3 separate regions of the Homo sapiens genome follow, and regions 1 and 2 are each linked to region 3. The links come from fine-mapping of genetic effects on gene expression. A gene starts in region 3. Each other region holds a variant in brackets. All regions are shown on one strand. Distances are between the middles of the regions.

Region 1 (8,000 bases), 74 kb before region 3:
GAGGATACTGAGTCTAACCCCCACAGGAGCCTGGCTGGAGGTGGTCGGCGGATCAGGTACCCCTGCCCCAGGCCCTACCTGCACCATCCGCAGACCCCCAGGGGTCTGAGACGGGTGGGAGCCCAATCTGGCTAGTGTCCCTTTCTCCCTCCCCACTCCACTCCCATCCTGCTCCTAATCCCTTTCCAGTCCCTCACTGCAGCCTCACTGGGGGTCCCTCTCCATAGTGATAGCCATGAGGACACTGGGATTCTGGACTTCAGCTCACTGCTGAAAAAGAGGTGAGTCCTGGGTGGCAGTTCCTGGGGCAGCTGGTGAGGCCTGGCTCCAAATCCCAGCACTGTGGTTTGCCAGCTGTGTGACCCTGAGCACAACACTGCACCTCTCTGAGTTGGTTTCCTTGTCTGTCGAGGGGATGATCCCAGTGTGGAAGGAGTTAAAGGGCTCTGCAGACATTATGTCCCGTCAACAGTCATCCTCACAGTGTCCCCCACGGCCACTCCACACTTGAGGCTGCAAAAGCTCCCTCCGTAAACTCCGGGGACCCAGAAGGAACAGAGAGAGGGTCCCCAGAGCTGCAGGGTCTACCAGGTCGGCCCAACTGACTTATGTTCTCTCTGCCCTCTCTCTCCCTCTCCCCCGGCCCCTCCATTATGGCTGCTGCTGCTGTGGCCCAGAGAGTAAGAATCGGGGTCTGGGTGTTTGGGGGCGGCAGGGCGCTGGTGGGTGCAGAGGGGATTCCCGTCCCCTCTCTGAGAGGCTGTGGTGAGAGACTCAGAGCAGGGTGCGGCTCCCCACGGACAGGGGTGAGTCTCTGTGCCTTGGGCTTCTCCTGCCACCCACCTATCTGTCAGAGCTTAGGAGGGATAAGAAAAAGTAATGCACACAGGAGGTCCTGCCAGAGCCTCCGGAGCAGCATGGGTGCCCCACAACACAGGGAGTGCAAGTGCGGAAAATAGGGAGGAAGTAAAGGCCCATGGGTGGGGTCCAGGTCTTTGAGGGAAGGTGGCCATACCTCTCATGTGCCACCTACCCTTTCTCCCACCCCCACCCCTGGAGCAGCAGTTTCCGGACCCCGAGGTGAGTGCCCAACATAGCACAGCACCCTCATCACCCCTAATTCTGCCAGGAGCCCCTCCAGATCCCCAGCCCCTCTTCAGCTCCCTTGGCCCCCAGTCCTGCCTGGCCTGGGACCCAGAGCAGCTCCAGCTGCCCCACCAGAAGGGAAGGGGCAGAGGGACAGGGGTGGCTACAGCTCCTTGGTCCTGGGCCCAGGAAGCCCCGCCCAGGGGGCTGCAGTCTTGCCCCCGGCCACAGCCTAGACTGCGGGACACAGGGACTCGAAGCTGGAGGCACCAGCAGAGGAGGACGTGTGGGAGATCCTACGGCAGGCACCCCCATCTGAGTACGAGCGCATCGCCTTCCAGTACGGCGTCACTGACCTGCGCGGCATGCTAAAGAGGCTCAAGGGCATGAGGCGCGATGAGAAGAAGAGCACAGGTTAGCCCTTCCTCAGAGGGGAGAGGAGAGGGCACAGGCTAGCCCTTCCCTACACAGGAGAGGAGAGGGCATAGGTTAGCCCTTCCCCACAGGGGAGAGGAGAGGGCACAGGTTAGCCCCCCACCTCGTCCACATACATGGAAAGAGCGGAGTCCGGCTTAGCACAGAGACTCACAGGAAAGAAGAGCCCAGGTTAACCCCTCCTTGTGTAGAAAAAGCCAAGAATGCCCAGGTTAGCCCCTTACCACAGAGATAGAAGAGAAGAGCAAAAGTTAGGCCAGGACAGCCACAAGGAAAAGGACAGAGCTCAGGTTAACCCTCCTCACCAAGGAAAAATCAGGCTACACTTTCTTTCTCTACCCTCTTCTGAAAAGAAATGAAGCCCGGTTAACCCTCTCCACACCCAAAAGAAAAGGGAAGAGGCCCGCTAAGCCTGGAGAGCCACACACAGGCAAAGAAAAGAGCCTGGCTAATCTTTCTCTCAGGCAAACAAAGCAGGAGGGCTTGGGTTAACTACCCTCACCCCCAGGCAGATGGAAAGAGGAGAGCCCAGGAATAGCCCTTCTCCACTGAGGGGTTGACAAGGGCGGGTGTGAGCCGGGAAAGCAGGGGTCTCACATGCCTTCTCCCCACCATGTCTGGGTCTAGCACAGGGCCTGGCACACACCTCGAGCGCTCTATAAACACCGACTGAATGGAGGGGTCAGCTTCCATGCAGGATATGGGAGACAAGCCCCTCCCAAAGCACACACACAAAACACACACGATCATGGGGACGGGGAGAGGAGCTGGTTAGTCCCTCCCTGCTGACCTCCCCCAGGCCCCTTATCCCTCTGCCCTGCCTCCCTGTTGTCTCAGCCTCACTGGGTTTCCCATCACCCCATCGCTAGGTGGCCTGGCCCTTACCGGCACCGTGGCCCCATTTAAGCCAGGGATCCCCTGAATGCCACCAATGTTCCTCTGGGTTAACTCCTGAACTGCTGAGCCCAGAGGGCACCAAGCAAAGGACTGTAGGTGCCCAAGGAGGAAAAGATGGAGGCTGGCAAGGCAGATGGGGACCTCCGAGGGTAGGGGTGTCTTCCAGGAATAGCAACAACAGTAAAAAGAGCAAATTGCTGGCCAGGTGCAGTGGCTCACGCCTGTAATCCCAGCACTTTGGGAGGCCGAGGCAGGTGGATCACCTGAGGTTAGGCGTTCAAGACCAGCCTGACCAACATGGTGAAACCCCGTCTCTACTAAAAATACAAAATTACCTGGGCATGGTGGCAGGCGCCTGTAATCCCAGCTACTCCGGAGGCTGAGGCAGGAGAATCACTTGAACCCGGGAGGCAGAGGTTGCAGTGAGTCAGGATTGTGCCATTGCACTCCAACCTGGGTGACAGAATGAGACTCCATCTCAAAAAAAGTGAGTGAGTTCCTTCCTAAGCCAGCCACTAGGTGCTTTATGTAATTATCTCATTTAATTCTCGAAACAACACTATGATGGAAGGACTATTACCATTTCCATGTTACTGAGGAAACCGAGGCACAGAGGGTTTAAGGAACTAGCGCAAGGTCACAGAGCACCCAGCAGTAGATCTCTGCCCCTCCGCAGCTGACTCCAGGCCCAGCCAGAGTATTTGAGGACTCAGGGGTCCTTCTCTGCTCGGTGGATGGAGCCCC[C/A]ACTTCCTCCCTGGGCTCAGCAGCAGCAACATGGGCTTTTACAAACACGGCCGCAAGAGGAGGCATTGTTGTGGAGCAGGGCTGGGCTCAAGACCCAGCTCTGCCACACACCTGCTGGGCTGGTGGCATTGGGCCAGTCGCCTCTCTGAGCCCTATTTCCCCCACTGCAGCAGCATGGGGACCACCGCACTGGCCCTGGGGGCTGAGATGGGAGTGAGAGTGCTGGGCACAGAGGGCTGCTAGGTGGGAGCGCCTGGGAAGAGTACACAACTCAGGGGTTGCTGAGAGAAGAGAAGGCACAGCTGTCCCAGCCCCAGTTCTCCTGACAAGCTTCTGTCTTTCTGGAAGCCCCTAACCCAATCCCTGAGCTGAGCAGGTGGAGAGGACCCCAAGGAAGACAGAAGGACAAGGTCAGACAGACAGAGACAAGGAGGTGGGTTGACACATAGACACAGATAAAGAAATGAAGACACCATGCCTGTAATCCCAGCACTTTGGGAGGCTGAGGCGGGCGCATCACCTGAGGTCAGGATTTCAAGACCAGCCCGGCCAACATGGTAAAACCCCGTCTCTACTAAAAATACAAAAATTAGCTGGGCGTGGTGGCACATGCCTGTAATCCCAGCTACTCGGGAGGCCGAGGCAGGAGAATCACTTGAACCTGGGAGGCAGAGGTTGCAGTGAGCCAAGATGGCGCCATTGCACTCCAGCCTGGCCAACAGAGCAAGACTCTGTCCAAAAAACAAACAAACAGACAAACAAACAAAACAAAAAGAAATAGAGACACAGAGAAGTGGAAGCGGGGCGGCACAGAGGGGATTGGAGGGGGGGACCTGGGCCCCAGCCACAGCCACAGTAGCTTGGCCTGGGGGAGCAGGGTGCGGGCGGTGGGGTGGCCGGGGCTGAGGGGTGGTGCTCAGCCTTTCAGAAGAAGCTGGAGCCGGCCTACCAGGTGAGCAAAGGCCACAAGATCCGGCTGACCGTGGAACTGGCTGACCATGACGCTGAGGTCAAATGGCTCAAGAATGGCCAGGAGATCCAGATGAGCGGCAGGTGCAGCCTGGGGTGGGGAGGGGGGCTCGGGTGGAGGTGGGGACCCCCATAGCCTTGCCTCCTGCCCCTCTCCACATGCGTATCTCTGACTCGGTGTGGCTCTCAGCCCCATCTCTCTGGGCCTAATTTCCCATCCTTTTGCTCCTGCCGGTCCCTCTCTCTCTCTCCTTTTGTCTCGGGCTCACTTCCTCCCGTCGGGAACACTTCAACGGCCCCTTCTGTTCTACAGCAAGTAAGTTCCCCTCTGGATGGCTTGGGGTGGGGGGCACAGGGATTATCATGGGGCGCACTGGGCCCGGAGGGGTGTCCGCAGCTTTCCTGCCACTTCCCTGCGGCCCCCACCCAGGTACATCTTTGAGTCCATCGGTGCCAAGCGTACCCTGACCATCAGCCAGTGCTCATTGGCGGACGACGCAGCCTACCAGTGCGTGGTGGGTGGCGAGAAGTGTAGCACGGAGCTCTTTGTGAAAGGTGGGCCTGGGACCTGAGGATGTGGGAACCTGGGGAGGAGATGGCCTCAGGGGAGCCAACCCTCATGCTCACCCTGCCTGGACAGAGCCCCCTGTGCTCATCACGCGCCCCTTGGAGGACCAGCTGGTGATGGTGGGGCAGCGGGTGGAGTTTGAGTGTGAAGTATCGGAGGAGGGGGCGCAAGTCAAATGGTGAGTTCCAGAAGCACGGGGCATGGGTGTTGGGGGCATCTGCCCAGAAGAGGCCACAGCACTTGCCACCCACCCACCCGGCTAGGCTGAAGGACGGGGTGGAGCTGACCCGGGAGGAGACCTTCAAATACCGGTTCAAGAAGGACGGGCAGAGACACCACCTGATCATCAACGAGGCCATGCTGGAGGACGCGGGGCACTATGCACTGTGCACTAGCGGGGGCCAGGCGCTGGCTGAGCTCATTGTGCAGGGTGAGCCTGGCTGGGGGGGCACATGAGGCTTTAGGGCTTGGACCCCTCAGCCCCCACCCCACCTAGCCCTGTAGGGGAGCAGGCAAACCTGGGCTCAAGGCCTCTGTGACCTTGGGCCTTTGACAGCCTAAACCTCATCCTTCTCATCTCTAAAATGACGATGCTGAGGTGACCGCTCCAGAGGGTACTGAGAGGGTCATACGGGCCTGGTGAGCATCACCACCCCTCAGACACTTGAGGTTCCTTATGTGCACTGCACCATCACAGGCAAACATGGCACACACAGGCACACGTGTTTTCACATGCCCACATGCACCCAGACACGTGCGCACCAGCGCCCATGGGCCCACACGCCCTCCACAGGGATTCACGCCACACCCACACACCCTCCCGAGCTCAATGGCTCTGCCCTGCCCTGCAGAAAAGAAGCTGGAGGTGTACCAGAGCATCGCAGACCTGATGGTGGGCGCAAAGGACCAGGCGGTGTTCAAATGTGAGGTCTCAGATGAGAATGTTCGGGGTGTGTGGCTGAAGAATGGGAAGGAGCTGGTGCCCGACAGCCGCATAAAGGTGTCCCACATCGGGCGGTGAGTGTGCAGGGCAGGTGGATGGGACAGGTGGAGACTGAGATGGAGACAGAGAGAGACACAGGGAGAAACAGAGAGAGAGAGATAAAGACAGGTGGACAGAGAGGCAGATGCACAGAGACAGGACAGAGACTGAGACAGAGACCCACAGAGAGGGAGAAACAGACAGACCCAAAAAGACAAAGAGACAGAAAGACAGAAATAGTTCTATAGAGACAGAAAGATATGCACAGGGAGGCACACACATAGGAGAGTTCGTCAGAGACAGAGAAGAACAGAGGGACAGAGACAAAGAGGCAGCAGGGAGAGACACGGACGGGGTCGAGCGCTCCCCAGCACCCTCCCCCAGCTTGTGACCAGGGCAGGGCAGGAGGCCACCAAGGAGGCCGGCTCTGGCCAGAGGCCCTCACTGCCTCTCCCGCCCTCTTGCTCATCCCTGGAGCAACTGGGCTGGCCGTGCTGGGCCCAAGTTCACAGAGATTAATGAGACCCAGCCCCTGCCCAGTCTCCAAGGGCCCAGCCAAGGAGATGCTTTGATGTAGAAATCACTTTTACGCTGCCTACCTCTGAAGGCACATTAAAAAGCTGGAAAATTAGATAATATAGAAAAAAAAAGGCATTTTTAAAAATCAGAATACCAACAAGCCAGGACAAGGTGAGGGCCTCCTGGGACCCTGGCTGGGGTATCTGGCAAGGCCAGGGGTGTGTGGCCCAGTGGGGTCCCCTGAGCCACTGCTCCCCTGCAGGGTCCACAAACTGACCATTGACGACGTCACACCTGCCGACGAGGCTGACTACAGCTTTGTGCCCGAGGGCTTCGCCTGCAACCTGTCAGCCAAGCTCCACTTCATGGGTGAGCCTGCTCCAGGGTAGGGTGGGTCGGGGCAGTGGGGCCAGGAGCCCCTGTCACTGGGCCCTGCCTTTGCCCCCGTGCTACTTGCTCTTCCTTCTCTTGCAGAGGTCAAGATTGACTTCGTACCCAGGCAGGGTAAGTCTTGGGGCCCCTGAGTCTTGGTTCTGCTCACTTTCCCGCAACCCACCCACGCAGGCCTCCCCTCCACTCACAGAGGGAAGAGCAAGGATCAAAAGTGGGGGTCCTGGGGCCCAGCTTCAGCTTTGCCACTCATGACCATGGGTCAATTATAATCTCTGTGAGCCTCAGTTTCCTCTTCTCTAAAATGGGAACCCTGATAGTGCCACCTCATAGGATAGTTATAAAGATGAGGTGACATGATGTATCAGACCTGTCAAGTGCTGTCACATGTGTGACTGTTATTATTACATCTTTTCTTCTTCTTCCTTTTTTTTTATTTTTATTTTTTTTGAGACGGAGTCTCCCTCTGTCGCCCACGCTGGAGAGAAGTGGCGCGATCTCGGCTCACTGCAAGCTCCGCCTCCCAGGTTCACACCACTCTCCTGCCTCAGCCTCCTGAGTAGCTGGGACTACAGGCGCCCGCCACCATGCCCAGCTAATTATTTTTTGTATTTTTAGTAGAGACGGGGTTTCACCATGTTAGCCAGGATGGTTTCGATCTCCTGATCTCATGATCTGCCTGCCTCGGCCTCCCAAAGTGCTGGGATTACAGGCGTGAGCCACTGCGTCCAGACTGCTTTGCTTTGTTTAACTGAGGGCAGATTCCTGATTTATTTGGCCAGGGAACCTTTTTAATGTGTGCATGTGTGCGTGCATGTGTGCGCGCGTGTGTGTGTGTGCATGTGTCTGTGTGTGTATGTATATATGTGTGTCTGTGTCTGTGTGTGTGCGTGTATGTATGTGTATTTGTGTCTGTGTGCATGTGTGTGTCTGTGTGTGCATGTGTGTATGTGTATGTGTGTCTGTGTGTATGTGTATATGCGTGTGTGTGTGTGTATTGTGTGTGTGTGTATGTGTGTGGCAAGACACTGATGTTCCCCCAGTTTTCAAAATGCTATGCTAGGTGACCTGACCTGAATATTACAAGCCTCCCAGCCAACGTCCTGGGGTGATGGGAATGTTCCAGATCTTGGTTGGATTAATAATTGCATGGGTGTATTCATCTGTCAGAACTCAGCCTACTGTCAGATCTGAGCATAAACTATACCTCAATACAAATCTAAAAAACCAATAACCAGGGGCCCAGGCTCTTGAGCAGCCCCGCCCCAGTGACCTGTGCTCCTCCTGGCTCTCCCGTTTCTCTGAACTACATTGTGTCTTCTGCAGAACCTCCCAAGATCCACCTGGACTGCCCAGGCCGCATACCAGACACCATTGTGGTTGTAGCTGGAAATAAGCTACGTCTGGACG
Region 2 (10,786 bases), 580 kb before region 3:
GTCGAGGCCAGCGTCAGGACCAGCCCAAGGAGGCAGACAAGGAATATTACCGTTACTGACTTGGCTCCACATACCGTTACTCAAGAGAAACTGGTGCGTAAGCAAGATCCTGGAGGATGCGAGAGAAATATAAACAATCACTGGGTGTGGACCTGTGGCTGCCCATAGAGGCTTTGCCAGCTCTGAAATTGTAGTCACACATTTTGACTAATTTAATTGCCAGAAATTCTTGCAAGATTTGGGCAGTGACAAATGCAAGCCAAAACAAGACTAAAGTCTGGGGGTTTGGAAAAGCATTGGCCTCTGACCTCAAACTGGAGCCTCTCATCAAAGTTCTAACCCCTATTCGGGTCACTGAGCATCCTTGCTCTGAGACGTGGAAGTGACTTATTTTATTTGCCTATAAACATCTTTCGGCACCTGCACCAAATTGAAACTTGGCAGGCAAAATGAGGAAGGAGTGATACTTCTAAAAACTCATCCTATTTTTATGATTTGAAGCTTTTTATTCTTTGTAGGGGTAGCACAGGAGAAGGATATTAAAAAAAAAAACTCTCAGGAGCAGATGAAAAGAGAAAAGAATGAAACAGACTGCAAAAATCTCTCAACTGATATTTATTGCCATCATTATTTTGCAGAGAAAGACATAAAGACGTGAGCACATTGATTGGCATTGCCCATGATCATGCAGCAACAAAGGAAGTGATAGCCCTGAGGTTTTAAGACAGAACCGAATGAGAAGGGAGGGTTTGAAGTGGGTGCAACTTCAAGATGGTCTAGATATAGGTGAGAATCTCTACTCAAATATCTGAATTTCTAGCCTCTTAATTGTATTGTACACTTTTATATTAAAAAGCACTTCTGAGGCCAGGCACAGTGGCTCACACCTGTAATGCCAGCACTTTGGGAGGCCGAGGCAGGCAGATCACTTGAGGTCAGGAGTTCAAGACCAGCCTGACCAACATGGTAAAACTCTGTCTTTACTAAAAATACAAAACAATGAGCCAGCCGTGGTGGTGCGAGCCTGTAATCCCAGCTACTTGGGAGGCTGAGGCAGGAGAATCACTTGAACCTGGGAGGCAGAGGTTGCAGCGAGCCTTGATCATGCCACTGCACTCCACCCTGGGTAACAGAGTAAGACCCTGTCTAAAAAAAAAAGCACTTTTGGACTCTATACATGCAAATAACCCTTTTTACTGGATCAACTTTTGATCTTGATTTTTTTTTTTTTTAAACAGGGTCTCTGTTGCCCAGTAATGTGATCTCAGCTAGCTCACTGCAGCCTCAACCTCCCTGGGCTCAGGTCATCCTCCCTCCCACCTCAGCCTCCAGAGTAGCTGATACTACAGGCATGTACCACCACACCTGGCTAATTTTTGTACTTTATGTAGAGATGGGGTTTCGCCATGTTGCCCAGGCTTGTCTCAAACTCCTGTGCCCGCCTCGAGTTCGAGACCAGCCTGGCTAACATGGCGAGACCATGCTTGGCCCACCTTGTTTTTTAAGACTAATATTGGCCAGGCGCGGTGGCTCACGCCTGTAATCCCAGCATTTTGGGAGGCCAAGGCAGGTGGATCACCTGAGGTCAGGAGTTCAAGACCAGCCTCGCCAACATGGTGAAACCCTGTCTCTACTAAAAATACAAAAATTCGCTGGGCGTGGTGGTGAGCACCTGTAATCCTAGCTACTCGGGAGGCTGAGGCAGGACAATGCTTGAACCCAAAAGACAGAGGCTGCAGTGAGTGGAGATGGTGCCACTTCACTCCAGCCTGGGCAACAGAGTGAGACTCTATCTTAAAAAAGAAAAAAAAAAGACTAATATTAAACATATTTTACTGAGATGAACTTAACTGCCCCTACTGAGGCTACCTGCACATCTGGTTCTTTGTTGATGCCTCCAATTCCACCACTAGAGTTTAATCCCTTTGAATGAGATGGTAAGTGGAGTATATAGATAACGTGCCAATTCCAGTCAGCTGATAGCTCTCTGAATCACTCTGTTGAAAATGATACCGAGGCAGTAGAAAAGGACTCCCACAACTGATTAGCAAGAGAGGGAGGAGGGGCAATGCCCTACCAGTTAAGGTAGTGTATGTTGCCATGACTTACCTCTGGGAAAGGCAATTTATGAAGTTTTTATAGTCATCAGCACCTCAGTGTGAATTACTATAATGTCAACTCATTTCCAGTTATACCAGAGCTAGTTTTAATAGGTAAGGCATTCATATTTTCAGAAGTAAAACTCAGAACATATGGTTCAAGCGAGGATTTTTTTTTTTTTTTTTGAGATGGAGTCTTGCTTTGTCGCCCAGGCTGGAGTGCAGTGGTGCCACCTTGGCTCATTATGGCACCACTGCAACCTCCACCACCCAGGTTCAAGCAATTCTCCTGCCTCAGCCTCCCTAGTAGCTGGGATTACAGGTGCATGCCATCATGCCTGGCTAATTTTTTTTATATTTTTAGTAGACGTGGGGTTTCACCATGTTGGCTAGGCTGGTCTTGAACTCCTGACCTCAAGTGATCTGTCGCCTCAGCCTCCCAAACTGCTGGGATTACAGGCGTGAGCCACCTCGCCCACCTTAGCAAGAGTTTGTTTTGATTTTGTGAATTAAATTACATGTAAGCTCCTACAAAGATACAGAAGTAACATTTAACTAATCATATAATGAATCATAATTGAAATTTACAGAAAATTGGCTGGGCACAGTGGCTTACGCCTGTAATCCCAGCACTTTGGGAGGCCAAGGTGGGGGATCACTTGAGGCCGGGAGTTCGAGACCAGCCTGGCCAACATGGCGAAACCCTATCTCTACTAAAAATACAAAAATGTTGTTAGAGGTACACGCCTGAAATCCCAGCTACTAGGAGGATGAGGCATGAGAATTGCTTGAACCTGGGAGGTGGAGGTTGCAATGAACCAAGATTGCACCTTATACTCCAGCCTGTGTGACAGAGTAAGACTCTGTCTCAAAAAATTTAAAAAAAAATTTTTAAAAGGCCAGGCATGGTCGCTCACACCTGTAATTCCAATACTTTGGGAGGCCGAGATGGGAGGATCACCTGAGGTCAGGAGTTTGAGACCAGCCTGGCCAACATGGTGAAACCCCGTCTCTACTAAAAATATAAAAATTAGCTGGGCGTGGTGGTGCACGCCTGTAGTCCCAGCTACTTGGGAGGCTGAAGCAGGAGAATCACTTGAACCTGGGAGGCGGAGGTTGCAGTGAGCAGAGATCAGGCCACTACACTCCAACCTGGGCGACAGAGTGACACCCTGTCTCAGAAAAAAAAAAAAAAAGTAAAAAAAGAGAAATTTATAGAAAATATTACCTGAAAGGTGAAAACAATCCAGGGTGTATAGTTCCCAAGGATAAGTCCAAAGCACAGGAGGGTCAAGTCTAGGTGGGAGCCCTGGGCTTTCAGGGCCCCTCAAAGGCCCTGGAGTCTAAAGTCATGGTGGTTTCCTAAGTGGGTAGAAAGAATACTGAAAACGGAATTGAGAAGTCACTGACATACTTCATTTATTCCACAATTCTGCTTTTTTTTTTAGAAACAGAGTCTCGTTCTGTCACCCAGGCTGGAGTGCAGCGGCACAGTCATAGCTCATTATAACCTTGAACTTCTGGGCTCAAGGGATCCTCCTGCCCCAGCCTCCCAAGTAGCTGAAACTACAGGTGTACACTACCATACTTGGATAATTTTTTTTTTTTTTGTAGAGATGGAGTCTCACTATGTTGCCCAGGGTGGTCTCAAACTCCTGGGCTCAACCAATCCTCCTGCTTCAGCCTCCCAAAATGCTGGGATTGTAGGTGTGAGCCACCATGCCCAGCTGATATTTTTAACCTATGGGCAAAATGAAAGTAAAGCCATGTTTTCCAAAATATATTCTCAAAGAACAATGGTCCAATGAGTTGCCCCTTGAAAAGAGTATTCTGTATGTCAAAGAGTCTGGAAAGCAGTATCATGCATAAGGCCTTCTTGGAACTTCACAAAGCTATTATATTAATGTCTTTGAAAAGTTCTTCAAGAAAGAAATATGTTTAACTTTATTTATCATCATTTCCCACACTTGTTTAAACCACCAAATTCTTCTTTCAAGGAGTAGCTATCAAGTTGGTTATGAAAATCTGCTTAAAGTTCAATTAACAGTATTGTTCAGCTGAGCGCAGTGGCTCACACCTGTAATCCCAGCACTTTGGGAGGCCAAAGTGGGTGGATCACGAGGTCAGGAGTTCAAGACCAGCCTGGCCAAGATGGTGAAACCCTGTTTCTACTAAAAATAAAACAATTAGCCGGGCGTGGTGTCGGGCACCTGTAATCCCAGGTACTCAGGAGGCTGAGGCAGGATAATCACTTGAACTCAGCAGGCAGAGATTGCAGTCAGCTGAGATCATGCCCCACTGCACTCTAGCCCGGGCAACAGAGCGAAACTCCGTCTCAAAAAAAAAAAAATAAAGAAAAAGTCCGGGCGTGGTGGCTCACGCCTTCGGGAATCCCAGCACTTTGGGAGGCCGAGGCGGGCGGATCACGAGGTCGGATGTTCAAGACCAGCCTCACCAACATGGTGAAACCCCATCTCTACTAAAAGTACAAAAATTAGCCAGGTGTGGTGGTGCGTGCCTGGAATCCCAGCTACTCAGGAGACTGAGGCAGGAGAATCGCTTGAACCTGGGAAGTAGAGGTTGCAGTGAGCAGAGATCGCGCCACTTCACTCCAGTGTGAGCAACAGAGCGAGACTCCATCTGAAAAAAAAAAAA[AG/G]TATTTAAATAAAACTTGCTGCACAATATTGGTAACATTCTGCATTTTGTTTCTAAACGAAGTCACTACCTAACCACTAGATGGCAATATGATTCAATTTATGTTATAACCATCCCCCAGAACATTAATAGTTCAAAGGGTATTTGAGTTTTCCAAAAATGCATATATGCACTTATTCATTCATTTAATTATTCCTCAAACATTTATTAGGTAACGTGAAGTTCCCGGAATTCTGATGGATGTTGGAGATAAGACAGTGATCTAAAGCTAAAAAGTGTTCACTGTCAAAAAATGTAATTCCTAGATTCCTATAAAACCGAAACATGCCTCATCAATTTAACATTTTTTTCTGAGAAAAAAATGAAAAAACATTACTACATTAAATATGTACATTGAGGCCGGGCGCGGTGGCTCATGCCTGTAATCCTAGCACTTTGGGAGGCTGAGACGGGTGGATCACTTGAGGTCAGGAGTTCGAGACCAGCCTGGCCAACATGGTAAAACCCCACCTCTACTTGAACCCAGGAGCTGGAGGTTGCAGTGAGCCAAGATTGAGCCACTGCACTCCAGCCTGGGCGACAGAGTGAGATTCTGTCTCAAAATTAATTAATTAATTAATTTAATTTAATAAAAATAAAAATAGCAATCATGTATTTAGCTCATTAATATGCAATTTGGACAGGGCTCAGTGGTCATGACTCATCTGTGCTCTACAAAATATCTGGGACCTGGGGACTTACCAGGCATCTCTCACTTCAAGTAGAATTAGAGTCTCTGTGTGTGGTCTCTCCCTGCAATCTGCCTAGGATGGCCCCGGCGTAGCCAAATTTCTTACATGGCAGCTTGCTTCCCCTATAGCCAGTCTTCAAAGAGAGATGTAGACTCTCTTAAGCTAGGCTGGCACAGCATCACTTTTGCTGTATTATATTCCTTATAGCAGTTACAGAACCCTCCAGATTTAAGGGGAGGGGACAAAGAAGGCTACACTTCTGGATGGGAACAATGTCAAAGAATTTGTGGCCATCTTTCTTTTGCCATATGGATATATGAGATTTGGGTGTTGGGATTAAAAGAGAAAAGTCCAGGGTAATTACTAGATTTCTAGACTGGGCCACAGTGGTGATGTCCACACAGATATAGACTACATGTGAGAGTATATAGTGAGACTATATAGAGAGGGGTAACATTTTGGATATGTTGAATTTGAGATGTCCATGGGAAATCCAAGGGGCATCAAGGAGGCAACTGAATATAAAAGGCTGAGAACTCGGCAAAAGAGGTCTGACCTCTAGATATGAAAGTGGAAATAATCAGTCTTCGGAATAGTTCTCTCTACTGTGGCACATCAGTGTCATGAGCAGTTATAACTTAGATAACCAGGAATTTGTAAATAATAACAGTTGAAGTGTGGCCAGGCGCGGTGACTCACACCTGTAATCCCAGCACTTTGTGAGGCCGAGGCAGGCAGATCATGAGGTCAGGAGATTGAGACCATCCTGGCTAACACTGTGAAACCTCATCTCTACTAAACATACAAAAAAAATAAGCCAGGCGTAGTGGCAAGCACCTGTAATCCCAGCTACTCAGGAGGCTGAGCAACTGGAACAGTGCTGGTAACTGCGATGGGGAAAGTAAGTGTGGGGAGAGAGGTTAGGACTTCAGTTTCAGACATGTTACATCTAAGATACAAAATAGGCCGTTGAATATATAAACCTGGACTTCGGGGGAGAAGCTTAGACTGGAGGTATACATTTGGGGATGATCGGCATATAACAATGCAGTATTTAAAGCCAGAAGACTGGGTGAGATTCTCAGGGGAGTGTTTGTAGATGGAAAGGACCAAGAACTGAACTCTGGACACTCCAACATCAAGAGGTTGGGGAAAAGAGGAGCATCTAGGAAAGGAGTCTGAAAAGGAACAGTTAGTGAAATAGGTAGAATCAAGAGAGTGGCGTCCTTGATGCCACATGAAGAATGTGTTTCCACGAGGAAGGAGCAAGCAATTGGTCAAATTCTACAAGTAGTCAAATAAGCTTAGAAATAACAGTTCAGGCCAGGTGCTGTGGCTCACGCCTGTAATCCCAGCACTTTGGGAGGCAGAGGTAGGAGGATCGCTTGAGGCCTGGAGTTTGAGACCAGCCTGGGCAACATAGGAAGACCTTGTCTCTACAAAAAATAAAAAATAAAAAATTTGGCAGGGCATGGTGGCACAAGCCTGTGGCCCCAGCTACTCGAGAGGCTGAGGCAGGAGGATCACCTCAGCCCAGGAGTTTGAGGCTGCAATGAGCTGGGATCACATCACTGCACCCCAGCCTGGATAACAGAGCAAGATTATGTGTCAGAAAAAAGAAATAGCAGTTTAGTATTAGACAGATAATGTGGATGCCATTGATAACCCGGAAAAAAGCAGTTTCAGCAAGGCAGTAGAAGCAAAAGCCTGAAAAACATGGATTTAATGAGGCCAGATGCAGTGGCTCACGCCTGTAATCCCAGCACTTTGGGAGGCCGAGGCAAGTGGATCACTTGAGGTAAGGAGTTCGAGACCAGCCTGACCAACATGGTGAAACCCTGTCTCTACTAAAAATACAAAAAACATTACCCAGGCAGGGCAGCGCATGCCTGTAATCACAGCTACTTGGGAGGCTGAGGCAGGAGAATCTCTTGAACCCAGGAGGCGGAGGTTGCAGTGAGCCGAGATTGTGCCATTGCACTCCAGCCTGGCCAACAATAGCGAAACTCCATCTCAATAAAATATATATATATATATATATATATATATATATATATATATATATATATATATGAGAATGAGAGAGAAGGAATTAAAACACTCTTGAGTTTTGCTGTGGGTGAGAGGAGAAGAGATATGGAGTAGTAGCTGCAGAGAGTGGAGGTCGAGGGAATGTTTGTATGCTTAGTACATACAGTACTAAGAGAAAAGGGGAAAAGACTGAAAATGGAAATAATTGAATTGCTAGAATGATGTCCTTGAGCAGGTGTTCTAAGGAAGTAGAAAGGTTGTCTCTGCATAAGCTCAGAGACAGTTTATAGTAACAGGAAGGGAAGGCAAAATATGTGGTTACAGATGCTGGTAGGTGGGGAGATGTCATTATAGAGGAAGTCCTCCCTTCCTCCTTCCTTCTTTCCAGATGGGTGTCTTTCTGGCCATGCTGGAGCACAGTGGCAGGATTGTAGCTCACTGTATCCTCCAACTCCTGGGCTCAAGAAACCTCCTATAGCTGGGACTACAGAGGCACACAACTATGCCTGGCTAGTTTTTTAAAAATTTTTATTAGAGATGGGGGTATGTTGCCCAGGCTTGTCTTGAACTCCTGGCCTCAAGCCATCCTTCCATCTCAGCCTCTGCTTTAATTTTCTAAATGAAGAAGCAAGCTGAGAGTCAGGATGACAAAGGAGGCAATGGAGGTTATAGGAGTTATGAAATATTCATTTAGAACAGTAAATGGAGAAGGCAAATACAATGTGTTTGCTGGGCAGCATTATGGGCCCACTCAAGGTACATGGTCCTGATGGAGTTACAGGGAGGCATGTCAGTATGGGTGTATAGTTTTCTGTTTTCTTTCTTTTCTTTTTTTGAGACGGAGTTTCGCTCTTGTTGCCCAGGCTGGAGTGCAACGGCGAGATCTTGGCTCACTGTAACCTCCACCTTCCGGGTTCAAGCGATTCTCCTGCCTCAGCTTCCCAAGTAGCCGGGATTACATGAGCGCACCATCATGCCCAGCTAATTTTTCTTTTTTTCTTTCTTCTTTTTTTTTTTTTTTTTGAGACAGTCTCGCTTTGTCACCCAGGCTGGAGTGCAGTGGCGCGATCTTGGCTCGCTGCAACCTCCACCTCCCAGGTTCAAGCGATTCTCCTGCCTCAGCCTCCCGAGTAGCTGGGATTACAGGCGTGCACCACCATGCCCGGCTAATTTTTTGTATCTTTAATAGAGACAGGGTTTCACCATGTTGGCCAGGTTGGTCTGAAACTCCTTACCTCGTGATCCACCCACCTCTGCCTCCCAGAGCGCTGGGATTACAGGCGTGAGCCACCGCGCCCGGCTAATTTTTCTATTTTTGGTAGAGACCGGGTTTCACCATGTTGGCCAGGCTGGTCTCGGACTCCTGACCTCAAGTGATCCTCACGCCTTGGCCTCCCAAAATGCTGGGAGCCACGCCCGACCCGGGTGTATAGTTTTCTCCAGTCATGTTCAGCTACAGATTTGAATGTAGTCGAAGTTGTAGTTTTTACCGATGAAGAGTTAGGCAATGAAGTAATTTAATGGTATTCAGGATAAGAAAGAAACACCAAAGAAGTGTGGGACAGTGAAGATTTTGTAGAACAATGGATTCCAGGTAGAATGAGGGGACTGCACTGCCAAAGTTGGTGTCCCAGAGGGAGTGAAGTGGAAAGATAGAAAATGATGGTCGGAACCAGATAAATGAAACGGAGAATGACAGGGAATGGTTGTGGTCACTGGTAATAGAAGTGCTTTAACTTCTATTGGCTATCACTAAGGAACAAAACCTTCCCCGCTGGAGATTAGCATTTTCCTCGATTTTGAACATCTACTCCCACAATATCTTCTAAACACCCACTATGGGCCCTTACTGCATTGACAGCCAAGTGCAAGATCACGGGTGGAAGGAATGGCAAATTCCTTTCACGTATCCAAGTGAGTAGCACTCAGGTAACCTCAGCAAGTGGCAGCACCAAGGTTTACCACATTACGTTTCATTATACAGGAATACACGAATACAGTCTCTTGGGGAGGGGAAAGACCAAAACCAAAGGCCTTTCCCTCACTACCCCTTCCTCACCCCGCCATCCCAAGTGTCGCCACTGAAGAGCGAAGGGAGGATCGCCAAAGATTTACAGACGGACACCCTAACCGAGGGAGAGGTGACCATAAACCCGGGATCCGGCAGAGGACGCCGAAAGGCCGGGACTCCCCGGACCTCGCCCCTCCTGGTCGACTGAGCCCCGCGTTTTAGAAACAGAAACAAACCCGGCCCCGCCCCCTGCCCTGCGGCCGCTGAGAAAAGAGCACCGCCCTCCGGAGGCGTTCCAGCCGGCCACTGGAAGGTTCCCGCAGATAGAGTCTGCCTCCCCTGCCCCCTTCTCTTCTGGATTCCTCGCTGCCCACCCTCATTCTCCCGGTGGAAGCCTCGCAACGAAGGGCCGGAGCCGCCTTTCTGCTCCCGGAATGCTTCACCTGTCCGCAGCTCCGCCCGCCCCACCCCCGGAAGTGACGGCGACCGCGCGGCCCTGCCTTTGTTCCGTTGGGCGTCGCGGCGACGGCGGGAAGATGGCGGCGGCGGGAGCCCTGGAACGGAGCTTCGTGGAGCTAAGCGGAGCTGAGCGCGAAAGGCCGAGGCACTTTCGGGAATTCACAGTCTGCAGCATTGGTACGGAAATGGCCAGGGAGGGTGCGATCCCATCTGTCCCCTCGGGCTCCTCTCATGGGTCCCAGGGTCCCTGACGCCCTGTTTCATCCTCCTGAGTCCACATGCCTCTAGCCCCGGGATCAGAGATTCCTTGATGTCCGACGTTTTCCTCTTTTCTTTGTATGGGTTGTCAGTCTGTCACTCTCTGCTTTGTCAGCTCCCTTAGTCCCTGTCATTTCTCAGAAGACGCGTGTGCAGGCTGACCACGTTCATTTTGCAGGGACTGCAAATGCCGTGGCTGGCGCCGTAAAATACAGTGAAAGCGCGGGAGGCTTTTACTACGTGGAGAGTGGCAAGTTGTTCTCCGTAACCAGAAACAGGTTCATTCATTGGTAAGTGTTGTGGTTCGCCAAACTCCCCTGGAAGGTAGGGTTTGGTGTATAAATTTTCGTCGCTGTACCCAAAGTGCTATTCTAGAAGCGGTAATTGACACTTAGGGAAAGAGAAAGATTGTTTTTTCAGTTCGTATCAGAATCGGGAAAACTGAGACACAGAGTTCTAGAAGAGATACCTCTCCCCCTCCCCCCCCCCACCCCCACACACACATACACCAAGCAACACCAGAAGCAGAGGAAATGTAGCTT
Region 3 (10,786 bases):
ACCAGCCTGGCCAACATGGCGAAACCTTGTCTCTACAAAAATACCAAAATTAGCTGGTCATGGTGGCGTGCACCTGTAATCCCAGCTACTCGGGAGGCTGAGGCAGAAGGATCACTTGAACCCAGGAGGCAGGGGTTGCAGTGAGCCGAGATCGCACCACTGTACTCCAGCCTGGGCAACAGAGCGAGACTGTCTCCAAAAGAAAAAAGATTAACTCTAAATACTCTAAATATGCTTAATAGGTCTGAAGGACCTTGAGCTGTAGAGGAAATTTCCTATGCCCCTCAAAGACCAATTACATGGAATCTCTAAATGCTTCCCCCATTAGGCATCAGCAGCAAACTGTACCTTTGTACGCCTCGAGGGATGCCCAGTTTCTTGCCCAGAAGGCGCTCACTACAGCAGTCCACCAGGCGCTTGAGAGTATACAAACACTCTCGGAAGGTGGAGAAGAAAGGGTAGTGGCTGAGCACGCACAGGGACGTGAGAGTACTGTTGCGGGAGCGGCTCCCCGCCTTGGCCCGGCGTTTGCCCCGAGGAGACTGGTTCACATCAGGGGTAGAGTCAGCACTGAGAGGCTGCAGGGATGAGCCACTCTCTGAGCTCTCAGTGCCACCCTCTTCTGAGGCACAGGTGGCATGGGTTCCTTCCTTCCCACGGGACCCTGCCCCACCTTCCCCCTTCTCCTTAGAGATTCGCTTTTGGAAGGAGCGGTAGAAGTTAACACAGATGCCATATCGCGTGACTCCAGTGTCCTTGTCAGTGAGGGTGAAGACAAAAGAGGTATCATCCCGAAGGCTCATGCGCCGCTGCCGCACGCTCAGGCAGCCCTCGGGCTGGCAGAAGAACACTACATCTGGGGGCAGGGGAAACTCAGTGTGATCCTCCAAGGGGTATCGCCGTAGCAATTCAGGAGTCTGGGCCACGCTATCACTGCTCGGGTGCCTGAAGAACATAAAGACAAATTCAGCAGCCTGAAGGGATGGAATGGGCTATCAAATTTTAACCACAGTCAACAAATAAAGCTCAAGATGCTATTTTGGATAAAGTAACCTGACTGTAACACCTTGGAAAATATGGGTGCTGCCTGCCGCATGGAGCTGGTAACCTAAGTGAAGTCTACACTGTCATGAAGGCATCTATTCTGAAACGAAGGGGAGATTTTGACAATAAAATTATCACTGGCACCTTAAGATGATTAACATCTTTTAAAGTGAATTAACTAATAAATTACCAAAAAAGTATACATAGAGGAGTAGCTTATAATGTACTTTTTCTTTTTACAAAATAAGAAAACTGAGGTATAAAGAGTATATTTGCTCGACATCAAGAAGATGTTAGTTAAGAGCAGGGTTTTGCTTTCAATCCACCTGATTTTGTTTTTTCCCTACTGGCTTCGATGCTCCCATCAGGGTAAAATAACAGGAGAAGATGAGCTATGCAAAGCAACATGGAAATCGGAGAAGGGAACAACTGCAGATTTTATGGCTATCCCAGATATTAAGACAAAAGTCAATCTCTTCTTGGTTACCTGGCCCCTACGATCACTAGATAGTCAAGTAACCGAGGACAGAACTTCTTCTTTTGCACCATGGTTCCAATTCATCAGTTTATCTCAGAGAAGCATCAGGGCACCAAGCAAGGAGTCAGCATTCCCAGGAGGAATTCTGAAAATCGAAGTCTAATAGGAAAAAAAGTACTGATAAGATCCACTGCTGTGCCTAAGGGACTCATCCCTCTCAACTTCTTCCCGGCCAGAGGCAGAGGTCAGAAGGTCTTCCACTTTCATACTAATGATAGGAGAACTTGACGCTTGCCTAGCCTCGTGTCTAGGCTCATGAGCTCACAGAATCGAATGTTAAAAAATAGATAGGCCAGGCATGGTGGCTCACGCCTGTAATCCCAGAACTCTGGGAGGCCGAGGCGGATCACCTGAGGTCAGGAGTTTGAGACCAGCTGGCCAACATGGCAAAACCCCATCTCTACTAAAAATACAAAAAAATTAGCCGGGTGTGGTGGCACACATCTGTAATCCCAGCTACTCGGGAGTCTGAGGCATGAGAATCGCTTGAACCCAGGAGGTGGAGGCTGTGGTGAGCTGAGATCGCACCACTGCACTCGAGCCTGGGTGACAGAGTGAGACTCCGTCTCAAGAAAAAAAAAAAAATGTAGATAAATAATGGTTCACCTACCTATCCCTACCAATGACTTAATTTCCAGCTTAACGCCTGGGGCTCTGTTTCTGAAAAACAGACCTAGGCCATCTAATCTGGACTCAGTCATTGTAACAAAAATTGAAGTCACTCTCAGGATCCCTCCAGGGTGGATCAGGATCAAACCAGACTCCTCAACTAGCTAGCACTAACCTGCACTTCTAGGTCTAGATGGAAACTTAATTATTCTGTTTCAACAATCTACATTCAGCTTGATGTAAAACTACCACATAGACTGTCTAGTTAACCATGCTCAGACAATAACAGCTGGCTATTCTACCTCATGTGATCTCAAATGAAAATGTCCATGCCCCAATTGCCTAATCTGCACCACTTTTCTCCCTCCTTCAGGCAAGAAAGGAGCCCAGAGGCCACTGCTACTAGCTCTGCCCTTGGTGCTGAATCATAATCTCTCCTCTATTTTGATCTCAGGCTCAGAATCAGTAATACAATACCCACAGATGAGTCCTTGTCCTACTATACATTACAGAGGCTATGAATTAGAGGCAGAAATACCAGGATTTCTGCAAGGACAGGGAGACGTGCTCAGAGAAATTTCTAAACTATGTCCTAAAATTAGGAAAAGCTTTCATGGTCTTAATTATAATTTATTTCGTGTTAAGTGTCTATACACTTCTCTAAATAAAACGTTTCACCCCGCTGCACAGCTATTTCTGGTAGGGCTACTTCTTCTATGAGTAGAAGTTCTTTTCTCATATTTCTAGTGTTCCAGGATTCTACCTCTGTGCTCTACATGCGGCCTAAGACCTTGTTCAATGCACACGGAGAGAAACCCATTATCGTATACACACACACACCCTCTACTCCCTCACCTGCTGCTGCGGGCACTCCCATATATACAGACATACACACTCCCTGGATGCTTAAGGCCCTATTTGGTTTAGGTAATGAGTAGAAGTTTTTTCTCCCCTACCTAACAATAAACAAGACCTATTTGCAATACCTCTCAAATCCTCAAAATACTGCTTTCTCCTTTCCCTTGCTCCCAGTAGAGGACCTGCAGGTAATAGGATTCAGTTTTATCTCTATAGCGACTCTGGCTCCCAGCACTATTTATAGCAGAGCCACAGCCCCTCCCCTGCTTGGTGACCGCACAGTGCTAGCAGCTGCTACTCCAGAGTCAGCCAAGGCCCATAACAATTCACTCTCCTCGAACCTAGAGACACTTCTCCCACTGACAGTACCTGCTAAGAATTAGGTTGTCTTCTCCCTCATCTGTCTGTAGTTTGTACTTCGTCCTAATTCTGGCTTTTGATAGTGATATCTCTAGAACACCACCAGGTTTCTGAGCACGCCATATATTCATTTCTAGGTATCACCACTGCTTAACGAACCCAAATAGTCCCTTGGTTCTCCCAACTGCAATAGAGTCATGAGCAAACTGCAGGAGGTGGGGCACTATAACAGAGCCGCACTCAGCTCCTCCTGAGCAGAATCCAAGGGGGAGAGAAATAGAGAAATGAAATGGGATATGAGTAAAAAGCATAATTTGTTTTAATAAAGAATTATGTAGTTAACCTGTCATGGGATTCGAAAAAAAAAAAAGAATTATGTAGAAATGACTAGAGTGAGAGCCAAAGTATCTTAAAGTAAAACAGAATTTATAGAACCAGAGCTCTAGACTACACCTTGCAATCTATGTTTACATTGAAAACCCGGAGCCCTCTCCAACCAAAATCTCAAAGATCAGGCCTGAAGCACCTCCTACTGAGTACGCATCAGGCCTCTCTAGCCTTGGTGGGATCTCAGTCCCTCTCCACTGACAACTATCTGACGAAACTCAAGTCACTCACAATCATTTCCTTCCAGAGCCACAAGGACCCTGAGATCTTGTTATTATTCTAGCTACGGGTGGTAGGATAAATTTTTAGCCAGAGTTCACATCTGATCAGCAGCCACTGCCTTCAGTTATTCAGATTGCAAAGATAACTAAGATTTTCCTTCTCATTCTCTCCTCTCTCCCCTCCCCAAAAAGACTAACACCTTTAACTCCTCTAAAGACTAAATCCTCTAACATCACCCACAACTCACACTCTTGTCTTCACAACCAACGAGGCTCCGACTCTGCCTCTTGCCTCAACCATGTTTACTAACGTAGAGCCTCTGGTTCCTATCTTCCTGTATTCCAAAAGCATCCAGCTCAAAATGCATATCTATCTGCTGAAGTCCGACATCACCATCAGCTCCACCCAGAGGTAGATTTAGGATTCACAAACTTTTAAGTTATCTATGCCTTTTCAGCAGAAATAGCCATGCTAACCAACCCTTTGGATTCGTCCCTCATTTTGGACAGGATCTCACAGTAAAACCACAGGAACCAGAGAGCGATATGACATCTCTGCTGACGTGAACACAACAGGAGGCTCTCCTCCCCTCCTCTACCTCCCCAGGCAGTGACCTTGCAAGCTCATCAGCACAGACTGGTCCAGCGTATGGGAGAACTGGAGCAAGGAGGCTGGCAGCTGGCAGGGTTGGGGTAGAGGGGAGGGCAGGGAAAGGTGGAAGAAGGTAGATACACGAGGATGGGGAGGAGAGCGATTGCAGAAAGATGAAATGGTGTTCTCTCTCCAGCAAGTCAATTTTGAAATATCAAGTTAAAAAAAAAATTTCTTGAGAACCAAACGTGTTTCTCCAAATTCTAGCCAAAAATAAGGCGCAAGCACGCACACGCACAAGCACACCCGCCAAGCGCTGTGCGGGTTCGGCCCCAGGGCTGGCCAGCTCTGCCCGCCCCCTCACCTGCTGGACAGTTCTCCCCCGCCCCCGCCCCCGCCCCGAACCTGAACCCGAGCCGCCCGCTCGGCAGGAACCAAGCCCAGTAGCCTGAGCCCCCTCCTCTGCCCGGGGCGCCCCCATCCCCGTCCCCGCCCCTCCTCGGCAGACCCCCGTCCCCACGCCCCTTCACACTCCCCCAGGGCCTCCTGAGAGACCCCTTCCTCCAAGAGCCACGGTGTCCTCTCAGAGCCCGTCTCCCGCTCGGAGTCCCCAGACGCTCGCCCAGGACCCCACCGGCCCAGACTCTCCTACCTCCCAAGCTCTGGGGGACTGGCCAGGCCCAGCCCGACGTCCCCCGGCAGCGGGGCGTCAGTCGCTCCCCAGCGCGGCGCCGCTCCGAGCGGGCGCCAGTTCCGCGTCTGCACTGGGGGGCACGCACCACTCGCGCGGGGTGCGGAGGGGGAGGCCGGGGCCGGGGCCGTACCATTCAGCCCGGGGGGCCGGGGCTGCACCGAGCCGAGCGCCGCGGGGCGGGGCCGACCTCGGGAGACAGCGGCTGCGCACAGACCTAGCCTAGCGCCCGTGGGCGCGGGAGGGCGCGCCAGGCCGACCCAGCGCCGTCGCGTGCCAAGTGGGGGACCCACAGCAGTACCTTCTGTTTGGGTTGCTCAGAGAGACTCTCACCCGACGGGGTCATAGCGCCCGTTTCGACGACATGGGGATTCCTCTGAAAGTCACTTCCCAAGATAATCGGCCCCTGAGACTTCCTGACGGGCTCCCCATCCCCCAGTCCCCACCCCCCACTCACGCGCTTTGGCGGTGCTCGGCGTCCGAGCAGGGAAGCCGGCTGCCGAGCGGTGGAGCCTACCAATCCTGGGCAGCGGGGGCAGAGGGGGGCGCGCGGCCGCGGTTACCTCCACCGGGCGCGCGCGGGGAGTGGGGGGGCGTGGCCGCGCCGCGGCGCCCGCTGGGAGATGGAGTCCAGTCAGTCCGCGAGGACAGCCCCGCCTCAGGACATCCTCCCCGCGGCCACACGGCTCTTCTCTTCCTGTCCCAAAGGGCCTGGGGACCGACACTGGGTTCTAGGTCTTTCAGGTTGTGCCTTTTTCAGATGCCAAAGGAAAAACCAAGGCATGCTACACATGCACGTGAGGTGCACCGCCGACGCCTTAGCGCTGAAATCCAACACTTCCTCCTCCACCGCAGAAAGGCAACCGGATCCTACCCGGATCCCAGCAGGGGAAGGGGGCGCCTAAGCCTCAGCATTCCATTTACCCATATGGCGCAGTGGGGGTTAGTAAGAAGAGGCCCCCTCTCACGGCCAAGGCTGTCATTTGTGACTCTCCCTCCTCTGGGCCTGGAGGCGGATCCTAAAGATCGCAGGCTTCCTCCTCTATTACCGTGTCCCCACCCCCAATCCAGAAATTGGTTTCTCTCATTTTGTATTCATTTTGATCTTCCTGTTCAAACAGTACCAGACCTATCAGTGAGGCGGCGCTGAGGCATTTATGGCCATACCACAGAGTGACAGTGGAGAATTTTTCTTGGGGCCCTGTGGGAAAAACAGGAAGTGGTGGAGGCAGGATGGGCAGGGCTCTGGAGAACCCTGTGCAAAGTGGCCCCCAGGCCCATCCGTTTGTGGGGTCAGCATGATCTTCAGACACAGCACAGTGTTAGCGAGGGCTCCACTGCTCAGTAGCCACAAAACTCGCAACCCTTTGACTCTCTTTTAATGCCACGGGAGGATCTCCTTGCCCAGCTCCCAGGAATGTTTGCCCTTCTCAGTCTGTTCCACTTCTAGGAGGCAGCCACCAGGCCTCAGCCATCCGGCCAAGAAAACAGAAAATATGGGGACAGAACAGTCATTCGTGCACATCCCAGATCTCAGAGAGCAGCGGTGGGAGCTTTTTGTCCTGCAGACGCAGTGCAAACACTTGCTCTGAGTGGACGCTGCTCAGGGTCCGGAGGCTCACCAGTTTCATTAGCATCCGTGGGAACATCAGTCGGTCCTGGGGAAAGGAGAGAGACAAACACAGCTTTTGCCTGTCCCCAGGGAAGCGGGGCAAGAGTAGGGGAGTTGTGGGAGAGGTGAATTGTCTGCACAGCATGCAGTCAGAGAGAAATTCTTGAAGGGAAAGTAGGTATGTCAGGGAATGGGCCTGTGTGTGGGAAGGAGGAAAAGGAACACCATGGGGAGACTCACATGGGGATGGTGGATGGAGACGTAGGCATGCAGGGCTTCCACATATGTGTGCTGCAGCCTCTCTACCTGGAGCTGGTCCTGCACGTTGGGCCGGTCTATAGGTCACCAAGAGAGTTGAGGAGCAGGTCTGGCCAGGGTCCAGTTCCATACCCCAAATTGCAACCAAAATATAGAGACATGCTCCAGCCAAGCTCTCTCATCCTAAAATAACACAGCAAATGCCTCCACCCTCCCAAGCCACCACCCCCCTCCCCCCACCGATTCCTGTGGGACCTGCAGCCCTCCTTGGTGTAAGTCTCTTGCTGTTTCCCATTGCCCCTCCTCCACACCTGCAGAGAAGATGCTGATAGCAATGAGCAAGGCAAACTCGGCATCATTGAGTTGCAGCTCATTCATGGCCCTGGAGAACTCGAAGATGGGGTTGATGAATTCCACTTGCAGCCCTGGGGAGGAAGAAGGGAGGCTGACGCAAGCAGCAGGAGCAGCAGGAACTTTCTTCTCTCCTCACCTTAGGGAACTATTAGGAACTCACTAAGAAGTTTACTGAGGCCGGGCACAGTGGCTCACGCCTGTAATCCCAGCACTTTCGGAGGCTGAGGCGGGCGGATCACCTGAAGTCAGGAGTTCGAGAAGAGCCTGGCCAACATGGCGAAACCCCGTCTGTACTAAAAACACAAAAACTAGCCGGGCGTGGTGGCAGGTGCCTGTAATCCCAGCTACTTGGGAGGCTGAGGCAGGAGAATTGCTTGAACACGGGAGGCAGAGGTTGCAGTGACCCAAGATTGCACTACTGCACTCCAGCCTGGGCGATAGAGCGAGATTCCGTCAAAAAAAAAAAAAAGGTCTACAAGGCTTTGCTGTGTAACCTTGAGCAAATGTCTTAACCCCTCTATAAGCCTCATCTGTGAAATGGGAATCATATCTGAACCCTTCTCAGAAAATTGTTGGTATAGTTCAATGACAAAGTATGCAGGGCACTTAGCGCTGTGTCTGGCACACAAGAGGTGCTGAATTAAATAATAATTCTGGTATTCTTGTTTTTTTTCTTTGAGACAGGGTCTTGTTCTATCACCCAGACTGGAGTGCAGTGGCACAATCACAGCTCACTGCAGCCTCGACCTCCCGGGTGCAAGCCATCCTCCTACTTCAGCCTCCCTAGTAGCTGGGACTACAGGTGCATACCATCACAAGTAGCTAATTCTTATATTTTCAGTTGTGACAGGATTTCACCATGTTGCCCAGGCTGGTCTCGAACTCCTGGACTCAAGCAATCCACCCGCCTCGCCCTCCCAAAGTGCTGGGATTACAGGCACCAGACACCATCACCTGCCAATTCTGTCATTAAAATTCTTGAGGGCTCCACATTTCTAGAAATAGAGGCAACTCTTATTTTTGTTTATCAAGAATCGTTTTTCAGCAAGGCACGGCGGTTCATGCCTGTAATCCCAGTATTTTGGGAGGCCGAGGCAGGGGGATCACCTGAGTTCAGGAGTTTGAGACCAGCCTGGCCGACATGGCAAAACCCTGTCTCACTGAAAATACAAAAATTAGCTGGGCGTGGTGGTGCACTCCTGTAATTCCAGCTACTTAGGAGGCTGAGGCAGGAGAATTGCTTGAATCTGGGAGGCGGAGGTTGCAGTAAGCCGAGATCACGCCACTGCACTCCAGCCTGGATGACAGAGCGAAACTCCATCTCAAAAAAAAAAAAAGAAAAAGAAAAAAGGCTGGATGCGGTGGCTTATCCCTATAATCCCAGCACTTTAGGAGGCCGAGGCAGACGGATTGCCTGAGCTCAAGAGTTTGAGACCAGCCTGGGCAACACAGTGAAACCCGGTCTCTACTAAAAATACAAAAATTAACTGGGCATGGTGGCGCACCTGTAGTCCCAGCTACTCGGGAGGCTGAGCAGGCGAATTGCTTGAACCTGGGAGGTGGAGGTTGCAGTGAGCCGAGATTGTTCTACTTGCACTCCAGCCTGGGCGACAGAGCAAGATTCTGGCTCAAAAAAAAAAAAAATCCTTTTTCAGCAGGGCACGGTGGTTCACACCTGTAGTCCCAGCTACTCAAGGAGGATCACTTGAGCCCAGAAGGTCGAGGCTGCATTGAGCCATGATTGATCACACCACTGCATTCAGCCTGGGCGACAGAGCGAGACCCTGTTTCAAAGAAAAAAAAAAGACTTGTTTTTCACTGGCATTGGCCTTACTTATTTGAACACTAGAGATACATTTCATGTATCACATCCTCGAGGGAATATTGCAGTATGGGTGAGGATGTGGATTTTGGTGCCAGACTGCCTCGGGTTGAGTCCTGCCTCTACCACTTACAAGGCAGTGTGACCTTGTGTAAGTTATTTAACCTCTCTGGGCTTTGGTTTTCCCATCTGTAAAATGGGAATAATAATAGTACCTATCTCATAAATATGTGGCATATATGGTAACTACCACATAAGTGTTTGTAAAATAAATAAAAAAATTTTTTTTGAGACAAAGAGTCTTGCTCTGTTGCCAGACTAGAGTGCAGTTGCATGATCTCGGCTCACTGCAAGCTCTGCCTCCCAGGTTCAAGCAATTCTCCTGCCTCAGCCTCTTGAGTAGCTGGGACTACTGGTGCATGTCACCACGCCCAGCTAATTTTTGTATTTTTAGTAGAGACAGGATTTCACCATGTTGGCCAGGATGGTCTCGATCTCTTGACCTCGTGATCTGCCTGCCTCGGCCTCCCAAAGTACTGGGATTACAGGCATGAGCCACCGCGCCTGGTCAATAAATAATACATTTTTCTTGGAAACAGTCTTCCTGCTGAGAAGACTAAAATGCAACAAAACATGAGCTAAAGTAATGATACCTAGAGAATGTCTCTCATACACATTGTCAAAGTCTCTGCACCCTACAGAGTTCCCCAGGCTTTGTCAGATTTCTTTTAGCAACCATCTGCTACACTTTTCCATTCAAGGCTTCTTGGTGAGTCACTTCCTGTACTTTCACCCTGATGTTTATCAAGTGTTGTGTGTTGGTCCATTTAATGGGCAGGCCCCATTTTCTTTTTCTTTTTTCTTTTTTTGAGATGGAGTCTTGCTCTGTCACCCAGGCTGGAGTGCAGTGGCGCGATCTCAGCTCACTGCAACCTCAGCCTTCTGGTTCAAGCAATTCTCCTGCCTCAGCCTCCTGAGTAGCTGGGACCACAGGTGTGCACCACCACGCCCAGCTAATTTTTGTATTTTCAGTAGAGATGGGGTTTTGCCATATGGGCCAGGCTGGTCTCGAACTCCTGACCTCAGGTGATCCGCCTGCCTCGGCCTCCCAAAGTGCTGGGATTTCAGGTGTAAGCCACCACGCCCGGCGGCAAGCCCCATTTTCTAAAGCATTTCTTGGTGAGGTTTTGAGCCCCAAAGTGTGGCAAACAGCCCCCTTTATAGAGAAATTAAGAGGAGGTTCTATAGTTAGCTAATGCACCTCTGAGGGTCTGCTGATGCCCACGGAATGAACACCTCAAATGTGCTCAGTCCATGTCACCAGTTATCTACTGCATGCAGTAAATAGTAGCGGATAGGGAGGGGAGGAGACTTGACAAGCAGAGCTCCTGTTCCTTCTCCCCAAGACCTCACTCATGAAATAAGAAATGCAAGCATGAT

Alleles and levels. Positions count from the first base shown, and alleles are read on the strand shown. Sizes are in standard deviations (SD) of each study's normalised expression.
For the expression in subcutaneous fat of the gene that starts at base 5,375 in region 3, C is the low allele of the variant in region 1 and A is the other (small effect, 0.22 SD a copy in GTEx).
For the expression in lymphoblastoid cells of the gene that starts at base 5,375 in region 3, G is the low allele of the variant in region 2 and AG is the other (large effect, 1.1 SD a copy in GENCORD).

Evidence for each region. PIP is the estimated chance that this variant, and not a neighbour inherited with it, causes the effect.
Region 1: its variant is fine-mapped to the expression of MADD in subcutaneous fat (GTEx, PIP 0.94).
Region 2: its variant is fine-mapped to the expression of MADD in lymphoblastoid cells (GENCORD, PIP 0.95).

What each region holds. Positions count from the first base shown.
Region 1 is chr11:47,339,707-47,347,706 of GRCh38, reverse strand. It overlaps MYBPC3 (myosin binding protein C3), which reads left to right. Exons shown (of 35, transcript NM_000256.3): 8 at 27-56; 9 at 228-281; 10 at 678-680; 11 at 1,063-1,080; 12 at 1,337-1,500; 13 at 4,083-4,215; 14 at 4,445-4,447; 15 at 4,562-4,686; 16 at 4,772-4,877; 17 at 4,963-5,129; 18 at 5,551-5,716; 19 at 6,463-6,569; 20 at 6,675-6,704; 21 at 7,917-8,000. Among named protein-coding and RNA genes, the nearest start is that of MYBPC3, 9.0 kb to the left of the region's middle. The variant C/A (reference allele first, on the strand shown) is at 3,163.
Region 2 is chr11:47,847,596-47,858,381 of GRCh38, reverse strand. It overlaps NUP160 (nucleoporin 160), which reads left to right and starts at 10,032. Exons shown (of 36, transcript NM_015231.3): 1 at 10,032-10,163; 2 at 10,423-10,534. The coding sequence starts at 10,064. RefSeq lists enhancers at 7,943-7,992, 8,023-8,072, 9,535-10,094. The variant AG/G (reference allele first, on the strand shown) is at 4,755.
Region 3 is chr11:47,264,722-47,275,507 of GRCh38, reverse strand. It overlaps MADD (MAP kinase activating death domain), which reads right to left and starts at 5,375. Exons shown (of 37, transcript NM_001376571.1): 1 at 5,262-5,375; 2 at 1,532-1,681; 3 at 349-945. The coding sequence starts at 1,593. NR1H3 (nuclear receptor subfamily 1 group H member 3) reads right to left here. Exons shown (of 10, transcript NM_005693.4): 8 at 7,482-7,595; 9 at 7,153-7,247; 10 at 6,475-6,958. The coding sequence ends at 6,812. It overlaps MADD-AS1 (MADD antisense RNA 1), which reads left to right and starts at 3,398. Exons shown (of 3, transcript NR_120569.1): 1 at 3,398-3,432; 2 at 4,367-4,429; 3 at 4,528-4,851. RefSeq lists enhancers at 5,316-5,610, 6,084-6,193, 9,976-10,270 and silencers at 5,084-5,613, 5,824-5,933.